3 linked regions of the Homo sapiens genome follow. The protein of the gene in region 2 interacts with the protein of the main gene of each other region in a pairwise test. Each region holds a gene or a part of one and is shown on either strand. Other genes may lie near its edges. The genes, in order: C11orf87, KRTAP2-4 and VWC2.

Evidence for each region.
Region 1: the proteins of KRTAP2-4 (region 2) and C11orf87 interact in binary tests that used the Homo sapiens proteins (3 or more experiments, as listed by UniProt).
Region 3: the proteins of KRTAP2-4 (region 2) and VWC2 interact in binary tests that used the Homo sapiens proteins (3 or more experiments, as listed by UniProt).

What each region holds. Positions count from the first base shown.
Region 1 is NC_000011.10:109,426,072-109,429,672, forward strand, and holds the end of C11orf87 (uncharacterized protein C11orf87 precursor), read left to right. Parts: 3' UTR 1-3,096; downstream 3,097-3,601.
Region 2 is NC_000017.11:41,064,464-41,067,388, reverse strand, and holds KRTAP2-4 (keratin-associated protein 2-4), read left to right. Parts: upstream 1-1,509; 5' UTR 1,510-1,543; coding exon 1,544-1,930; 3' UTR 1,931-2,273; downstream 2,274-2,925.
Region 3 is NC_000007.14:49,801,124-49,804,784, reverse strand, and holds part of VWC2 (brorin precursor), read right to left. Parts: intron 2,075-3,661; coding exon 1,945-2,074; intron 1-1,944. UniProt on the Homo sapiens protein: BMP antagonist which may play a role in neural development. Promotes cell adhesion.

The sequences.
Region 1 (3,601 bases), on a different chromosome or scaffold from region 2:
TTATTTACCACCTTGTTTCCTTTGGTTGAATGACAGAAGAAGCCAGAAGCATATTACAATATTAATTATATGCAGTGACATCTCTTCTTGGAAATCAAGCCTTTGACAGCTATTCAAATTTTTGGAAAATGTATGAATGAAAGTGATCTGCAAAAAGCTCTACCAAGAGAGTCCTTACTATCCTGCAGGGTGTAAGGCAACAGTGCCCCTATGAGCATCCCTCTCCCAAGCAACTCATTGTTCTAAATTGTCTACTTGGTCCAGACATATGTGCTCTTATCCAGAGGAAACATTACCTCTAATATTTTTGGTCATCTATTAAATTGCCCAAGCTCAGTTTGCATCTTTTATAAAAATAATTTAATAAACTTAATTTTAATCACCCATAAGATAATCACCTTTCCTGAAGCACAGAAGATCATCATTGAAGCATGCCATCTTGTAATATTAGGAAGACCAGGTATAATCTTTGGGTACAATATATTAAACAATGAACCAGTTTTTCTCCAGTGCCTTAGTCACTTCCTAGTAATAGGTAAAAGAGTGCATTAACTCCCTCAGGCCACTAGGGAATCCTGTAGTGCATCAGAGTTCTACACTGTACATCAGAATGACTAAGGCACTGTGAAGAAGAAAGTCCATTGATTTTTGTAGCTTACCCTCATCCAGTGGTAGCTCTTTAATACCTTATTACAGAATGACTTTTGGACTTGAAATTTGAATAGAATCAGGGTCCCAGAAGGGAGCTTCATCATTTCCAATGAGCTCCAATAAGTGCATGGATATTACTTTCTTTCCCTTATTTGGTGCACTTTCTACAGCGAATAATTTCCCATTTTATTAAAGCAATAAGATGTTCTGTTGTGAGCAGTGCTGGATAACGATTCCATTTTCTTGGTGCTGAAGCTACGCATATGTTCTTGCCTTATGAATCATAGTATATTCAAGGCATGCAATAATAATCCCCTTCCAAGGAGCAGCCTGTACACTCTGTGGGGGTAATTATGAAATTGTCCTACATCATTTCTCCCCAAAGGAATGCAAGGAGCAAGAGAAATAAAAGCATTATGTATATTGTAAAACAAATGATCTCAATACCTCTCAACGTGGGCACACATCTGTAATACACTTTTATTGTGCAACTTTAAATGTGTGTGCCTTTCTCCATTAATTGACTGTAGTTTAATATTTTTAATAGTGCTCTGTGTAAAGATGATGCAGTTTGTGAGTCAGATTTCATACTGAGCTTAATATACTCAAAACCTAAGCTTCCAGTGGTATTACTTGTGATTTTTTTATGAGATAGAGAATTACATGAAATTCTAGTAATCCAGTTTCCACACAAAATTATTTCAATAAGCACATATCCAAGCAATTTGTACAGACCTTGTTTAAAGCACTGCTTCTTATAGGGCTCAATTGGCAGTCTCAGGAGCTTGGGATGCTACCAACAGGGCATTTAGGTTTTCATTTTTATGAAACAAAAGGCAATCTGGAAATAGCTAAATTTATTTTAAGGATTTTATTCACTGATGTCCCGTCAAACTAAATGCTTCAAACCCCTATAGCTACAGCTTAACTTCTGCACTTGCTATTCAGTATTAATAAGGTGGCATGCTTGATTCTTATTGTTTTTAAAAATGAGAAAATTTGGAGAGAGAATACTATTATGTCAACGGTACAAGACTCTGAATCTTGAAGATGTAGATGGATATAATATTTAGACTTTATATACACCCATAGATATGTATTTATATATGCATACGTTTTGTATAAATTTACAATTGACTTTTTGTATTCTCTTTTCTGTCATTACAAGAATGAGATGGAAACCAAAATAGTTGTTCCATCCTCTTACCCAAAGAGGATACTGAAAAGTCCGGTATGTGCATGCACTTGTTTCTCTGGGGTCAAATCTGAATGACTTTCTCTTTAATAATGAAAGGGGAGAGTCCTGGTTAGCTTGGAAAATTGGTAATTAGATAAGCTTCCTTTCCTAGGTTAGTGACTCAAATGTAGCAATGATAATAAAGTTATGACCATATCAATGTGGTCTAAATATCTAGATGGAAAGCAAAAATATCCAGAAGAGGTTTAGGGCCATCTAGACCACAAACCTGGAACCTGGATTGTGGTTTGATTTTTTTCATTTTCAACCTATATGTTGTGTAGAAATACAATTTATATCTGCATAGCTAAAGGTAAAGTGAAAATATGACCATTATCTGTTTAGTTTGAGAAATCATTTTTGGATAATATGGATAAATTAGCTTTAAGAAACTTCTTTGACATCTGACTTTTCCACCATTTCTATCTGTATCAATTGTATTAATTAGATAATGGTTAAATTTTTATTTTTTTATCATGTAGACATATGCTTTCATGCTTTTCTGTGGGTGAAAGTTGAACAATTGCTAGCTGATATTATGTGGAAGTTACAGGTTAAAGTAGAACCAGAAATTTTAATATAATCTGATCAGGTTCCTTAGTCCCATTCCCATGTGAATCTGAACTTTGAATTTGAATCTGAAAGGCCTACTTATTTGGGCCATTTTTTGTTGGAACTTGTGATTGTAACTCACAGATGTTTCAGTTCATATTAGAATAAATTGCCCAATCTATAAGAGAGTGTTTAATCATTGGAATGAATGTAAATCTGATTCTGATTTGGTTATTTATTTGATAACATTTGAGAAACAGCTAATGTGGCTTGACATCAATACTTATTAATGTCTTCAACCTAATAATACAATTGGTGTCATGTATGAATGCTTAGCTGACAATAAGAATTTAATCAACTTTATTTGGAGACAATGACTTATCAAGGAGGTCCTACCCATTTGTGGTAGGGATATTTCCCTTACAGTTGTGATTACAAGGGATTGTTTCTATAGAGAGATGAACAGCAACAACAGTGACAATGATGACAACAGAAAAACTGACTTTTGAACTTGAGTATATCCAATAGATAGAAGAAAAAAGATATTAGAATTCATGGAAATTTTGTTTTGCTTTTCTATCAATAAAAGAGTTTTCTTGTTAATTGGCTTTTTGGACACTATTTCCTTGCCAATTTAATGTACAATATACCAGGATAACATAATTGCTTATTCTATTATACTCAGATGCTCAAAGAAATTATATTGTTTTCAAAAAATTTTTATAACTCATCTGCTCTTCCTCACAAACCAACTACATCTTAGAAATGGGATGTGTATAAAATTTAGGACAACCCAATAAACAGTCCAGTATAATAATGTAGCAGCTCCTTTACACAGATGCTCAGGATCTTGAGGTCATATGCTTAAATTCTCAGATTTCCTCTTGCTCTGCCTCTACTTCTCTACTATAATATAATCAGGTATATTAGGAAGGGATGTGGCTGACATGATTCTGTGCCAGTTAGGGGAAAGGTAGCCTCCAACTTCTGTAAATTCTGAAGGATCCTAGCTTAACCCTGCTGAAAAGGATCTGCTCCCTAGTTTGAAGTGCTATTGTCCTACTGGCTTTTGTGTTGACATTTACCACAGCAATTTTACACCGTGGACCTTTGCCCTCCATCTCAAACTCATACATCCTGACCCCGGCCATCTATAGGTCC
Region 2 (2,925 bases):
ATCTGGGAGTGGCCAACTTGGAGATCCACTCCTTATCTATGAAGGACATTTGAATCCCCACCTCATCCATTAGAACACAGGTCATACTGGGGATTGAGGCCCTTTGTTTTGGATTAAATGGAGGTTGTTAGGTGGAGGGTTCTAATGAAAATACTGTGTGAACTGCATGCTTTTTACAAATAATAGCAGTTCTCCTGTCCAGATACCACCACTGGACCACCCTTGTATGTAAGTTCCACTAATAAACCCTGCATCATGTTAGCTTTCTCCAGGTCCCTTCTCTAGCTCTCAGACACATTGTCATACTTAGTGGAGTCAATGGGGGTCCAGGATGACAATGTGTCATCTGGGCAAAACATTTCCCTAATTCTCTTCCAGTACCACTTCTAACCTTGCTGCTGAAAGGAAAGTTCATTACTTATTTTTTTAAATCTGTGTTTAATATGTATAAATGTAAGAGGTTCAAATGCAGCATTGTTACATGGATATATTGCATAGTGGCATGAAGTCTGGGCTTCTACTTTAATATATGTTTTCTTTCCTGTCTAAAGACCATGGTTTACTGAATCCAATGAGCATAAAACTCATAGTAGAGGCTACTTACTGCAGACTGAGGAGACCTGGATCTCAGACCTCATATGGTGACCTCATTGTGTGACCTTGGTACACTCTCAGGACCTCAGCTGTAGAGTGAGGGCATAGGCCTACATATTCTCCGCAATCCCTTCCCGGACTCTACAGATGCAACGACTAATTCCAAACAAATTACAAATATAATAATTGCAATGGATCCTTGAAGAGGGTTTTACAATCAAGGTAGAAGTTGAGTTTGGATTGGAAGGATGAGGAGGGCATTCCAGGTGAATGATGACACATCAAAACCAAGGCAGGAAAGCCCAGGTCCTAGTCAGGGGAGAGTGACCACACCAGTGGCCAGGGATCTGCATTTCGTGTGGTCCCTGCTCATATGAAAAACCACAAGCCTATCTTTAAGTGAGTCATGGAAGGAGCTATCTGTGAAGCAGATGACTACTGGTCTGCACTAGGATGATGCAATTAACCTGCTACCATCATGCCCATGTGCATTAATAAGGCAAGTCACTGCTTGGGTGCCGGTGATGGGAGCCTTTGAAGACAAGGAAGAACATGCTAATTTTAGCGCCAAAGGGCAGAGCGATTAGACACTAATTTAGAAAACACATTCTTTTCTCTCTTATGGGTTAGGAATATTTCAAAGGAAAATTAATCAGAAGTGAATCCAATGTCTAAATTTAGTGAGGATAAACAATACAAGAAAATGAGCGAATATTTGTGGTGTATGTACATGAATATGTATGAGGTGAAGAGTGACCAAAATACCATTAGTCAATGCTAAATCTTCACTTAATTGGCCAGAAGATGCACAAGAAAATGATCATATGTTGAAGGGTCATCAGCTCCCAGCCAGGGTATATAAAGGGCCCAGAGGGGGAGGAGGACATTCACACCTGAGAACATCCAGCTCCTCTCAATAGCCCAACCCACACCAGCCTCAGACACCACCATGACCGGCTCCTGCTGCGGCTCCACCTTGTCCTCCCTGAGCTACGGGGGAGGCTGCTGCCAGCCCTGCTGCTGCCGCGACCCCTGCTGCTGCCGCCCCGTGACCTGCCAGACCACCGTGTGCCGCCCCGTGACCTGCGTGCCCCGCTGCACGCGCCCCATCTGCGAGCCCTGCCGCCGCCCGGTGTGCTGCGACCCCTGCTCCCTGCAGGAAGGCTGCTGCCGCCCCATCACCTGCTGCCCCTCGTCGTGCACGGCTGTGGTGTGCAGGCCCTGCTGCTGGGCCACCACCTGCTGCCAGCCTGTGTCTGTGCAGTCCCCCTGCTGCCGGCCCCCCTGCGGCCAGCCGACCCCTTGCAGCACCACCTGCAGGACCTCCTCCTGCTGAGACCCCAATGCCCCCACAGAGCAATACACTGAAGCCTAAACATCTATCTGGTGTTTTTAAAAAGTTAAAAGAAAAATAGATTTTTTTTCACAAGGTGACAATAGTGATTTTTACCATCTGGATACAGCCTGGTGTAAGCAGACGTCCATTACCACCCTCACCCACATTTTCAGGTGTCTACATCAGCCTTAGTCATTATGGATAGTAAATCGACCTTTAAGAATTCCTGGGGTGGACTTTGCAAACACATTCTACAACCTGATGGTTTTTACTGCTCAAACTGTCACCATCATCTTTTGCAATGTGTTGCTCACTGTTGTCAATAAACTAATTTTTCCTGGCATAGCAGACTGCCCTGCTCCCTGATTTGTTCGTTAGTGCATGTTTATTAGCGTACACAGATAAGCAAGATTTTGGAACCTGCACAAGGGAAACAAAGCTCAACCTAAGCAAAACCTTATCCATAGAAATCTCATCTATTCAGTCATTCAGGAATTGTTTATCAAGGGACCTCCAGTTGACAGGTGCTGCCTGATTAGTGATGAACAAGCTACATGCCTTGTATCCAAGAAGCTTATGGTCTAATGGAATAGACAAAAGGAAAGACAATGTTCATGAAGAGGGGTAGAAGTGGGAATAGCATATGCCAAGCCCAGAATGACCACTGGTAGTAAACTGACCAGCACAGCGCATCTCATCTTCTTACCACAGTTCCTAGAGTAGCATTTTTCAAAGTGTGGCCCATGCGTCATACACAATAGAATCTCTTGCAATTGCCTATTAAAATGCACATTCTTAGGCCCCAAACCAAACCTAATGAATCAAAATCTCTGGGAGTGGGGCCCAAGGCTGTTTATTTTCTATCACTTCCATGTAATTCATTAGAATTTCAGGACCATTATTTCAGAGGAAGACCAGGATTTGAGCTCCTTGAGGGCTTAACAAGCATGGCCTGGAAGCCTTCCAAGAATAGTCACAAGGACAAGCCACAATGA
Region 3 (3,661 bases), on a different chromosome or scaffold from region 2:
AGACAGAGGGCCAAAGAAAGAGACAAAGCAAATACGGCAACGTGTTAGCAACAGGTGTAGCTAAAGGTATACAATTGTTCACTGGACAGTTATTTCAACTTTTCTGTAGGTTTGAAATTTCTCTAAAAGCAAGAAAAAAAAATCCAGGGGTTGAAATCCTGTCTTCTCACCTATTGTTAACACTCAAGCTAGGATTCCCGGCTATCTAATGCCAAGACTTAGTCTATAATCAAAATTTACAGGAAAAACATGGAATATCTTGGGTAGTTAAGACGCCAAATATTTAAGCAACCCATATTTAAGCCATTCACTAAACCCCTTGACGCAGTGAGAGTTGTTGTCGTCCAGTACCCCCGACATGCAGGGCACATGGCCTGAGCGCCAGCCCTCAGCTCTCCCAGCAGACCAGAGGCGCTCACTCGGGCTCCTCAGCGGGTGTGCTGAAAGCCACACCGAGACTCTGCCAGATTCTCCATCTGCCTCTCCTTCCCCAATCCCAGAGTCTTCTTCCCCCTTTATTAGTGTTAATTAGTGGTAATTAACACTAGTAGAGTAAACTGTATTGATTTCCCTCCATCTCACAGCTGGTGTCTCAACATCATTTTTTTTTTTAAAAAAAAAACACACTCCATGCTCAAAGTCCCCCTCGTTCTTGTCTAATGGAATCCTACCTCAGGATTTCTTCATAATTAACATGCACAAGAGACCAGCCAACCCTATATAAAGTACACTCTGTGACATCTTTGTTTTAACACTGTCCACTTGCCTTTGGAGGACTGGATGTACTATGCTACAATGATTATGACATTCCTAACACAGTCATCTTGTTCTTTCAGGTCTATCCTTCAACAGCAACATCATTCCCTCTTCCAATTATTTACCTCAAGAGTTTTACAATGTGTTGTAGTAAAATCTGGATATGTACAGGTACGTGGTCGAAGGTACCCATGGAACCTCATGGCCCGCACAATTTCGACTGTCATGACAGACTCTGGGAATTGTCTGAGCACCATGACCACCCCTGTGTCACCATCCACCAACACATGCCTGCCACATACCAAACCCATGCCACACAGCTATCAAGCCTCGGTCCAGCAACCCACATGAACGGCCGACAGCATCACAAGTTAGCTCTGAATGCTCTCAACCAGGGGTCCCCACAGCATACCCTGGGCAACATCCAGAAAGCCCAGTCGCTCCTGTCAGCGAGGCCACTCAGATCCTTGTAGACTCCGGCTGTGTCCCCTCTGTCCGCTGTTTCCCAAGCTCTGCTCAGCCTCTTGTCAAACTGCCCTCCGGGCCATAATTCTCAGGCCCAGCCAGCCTGGGTATGCACTCTTGTCAAAAACCGTCTTATAGTGTAATGCCCTCAGTACCTCAGGTACAGAGTAATCATCGTTTGTCAGGATGAGGAAACACTCTCCCATGACAAATTAGGATCAAGGACATCCTGCCACTTCATTTTCATAAAGTAAGCAAGGCTTCTGATCTACCAGGGGCTCTCACTGGGAATAGGAAGGGACTCTCTTCCTGCCTAATTTGCTTATGAAAAATATTCAATTATGTTCCAAGTTTCATTCACTTAGTAATGAAAAGTAAATGAGCCCAACCAGTGTGTTTAATGTGTCTTGGAAAGATAGAAACAGCTTTGCAAGAACAAACAAAGTTAAATTAAAATAAGTGACTCTCCTCAAAGGTGGAAATTGAATTTCTCCCCAAAGAACTTCTTAACATCCATAAAACATGGTGCTGATGCCAGTAAGAGAGAGAAGGCCTTGCTACAGAACCACTGTGGCTGAAAGATTACACACGTGTGTACGCATGTGTATTGATACATAGGATGAAACTCACGTATCCGTATGTGTCCCGTCTACCATGAAGCAGCACATGGGTTGTGCATCAGGGTGGGAGGTGCACCCCGTCACCAACGGGGATCTCACATACCATTTTTGCAGATGGGACAGCACTGATCAGGCTCGTACACAGGGTCCACACACTCCGTCTGGGGACACGCTGACACTGTGCATAGCACCTCACCGTTGGCTTCACAGCGACACCTCTCGCATGGAGACACCTGAAACACAAGCCCACAATCAGCACTTTAGCCTGCTGTCATGTTTATCCTACAGGGTCATATATATTTTTTTGAAATGGAGTCTCGCTCTGTCGCTCACACTGGAGTGCAGTGGTGCGATCTCGGCTCACCGCAACCTCTGTTTCCCGAGTTCAAGCGATTCTGCTGCCTCAGCCTCCTGAGTAGCTGGGATTACAGGCACCCACCACTATGCCTGGCTAATTTATGTGTTTTTTATAGAGATGGGGTTTAACCATGTTGGCCAGGCTGGTCTTGAACTCCTGACCTCAAGTGATCTGCCCGCCTCAGCCTCCCAAAGTGCTGGGATTACAGGAGTGAGCCTGGCCCTACAGGGTCATACTTTTCTTTCCCTAAACTTTCTGCGAAGACACCTAAGTGTTTTAGGAATGTTTAAAAAATGATCCAGCCCAGTGGTTTTCAGAGTGTGGACACAGGCATGCTGGGTGTTTGGTGAGTTGTCTTAGGTGCAAACGCACAGGACGGGCCACAGGGCTATGATGTTCCCTCTCCTGTCCAGCCAGAGCCACTGTTTAATTTGTGGTCTGCATATTGGGTTTCTTATTAAACTTTTTTTTGAAGAAATGTTTTTCATCTCTTTAAAAATTAAACAAATAAAAACTTGCTGCTGAGTTCTTGCCCATCCCCTCACCACGTAGGTGAATCCCTTGTCTATAACCCTGTCAAGTCACCACCCAGACTCACATGGAACACTCCCAGTGTTTCCAGTTACGAAGACACTGGAATAGGAAAGGGGAAAGGGGTGAAGGAGGAGAAACAGGGTGGCATCCAAGCGGGGCCAAGGGCCGGGAGCTCTATGAATATTCCCTCACTGAACTTTTACAGCAGCGCTAAAATACACGTACTCAAATTACTGACCCTTTGTACTAACAGGAAACTGAGACTCAGAGGTGTTAGGCAACATGCCATGGGCATGTCTGTCCTGTGAGCACAAGGTCCTCTTCCACTGAGGGCTCCTGACTGCGAGTCCATGGTGATTCCAATTTCCTCCAGGTCATTCTGCCCACTATCCAGCATCACGATGCTCTGTTAGAAACCAAGCTTCCATTTGCCTCTCTCTACTTTCCAGCCATGGGCTCATACTCTGCCTTCTTGAGCTATCCAAATCAAGCATACCAGCCATTCCCAAGAAAGCTGTACGTGGCTAACGGGACCCTCCATGGTCACTCACACAGGGCATGGTGATTTATCTCCTGGTTACCACCAATGGAGTGATTTTTGATCTGGCTGACCCAGGACAAAGCAGGAAGAGCATATGCAGACCCAGCCATCAGAAGCAAAACTGGGAAGTGGGGATACTCACTAGAAAGACCATGGAAATGGGGGACATGGAAATGGGTCGTATCAAGCTGAGTTCCTGCTTTGCCAGGGGCAGGGAGACCCCAGTTGAGTTGTGTGCCCCACGTCCATGATACAAATACCGCTTGTAAGGTAAAGAACATGAGTAACTCTCACAGATGCTCCCTTTGTCTATACAATGCAAACACTAAAAACTGAAATCTCCACTGAGTGGACTGGCTATTACGAGAAGCAAAAGCTCAACTGGAG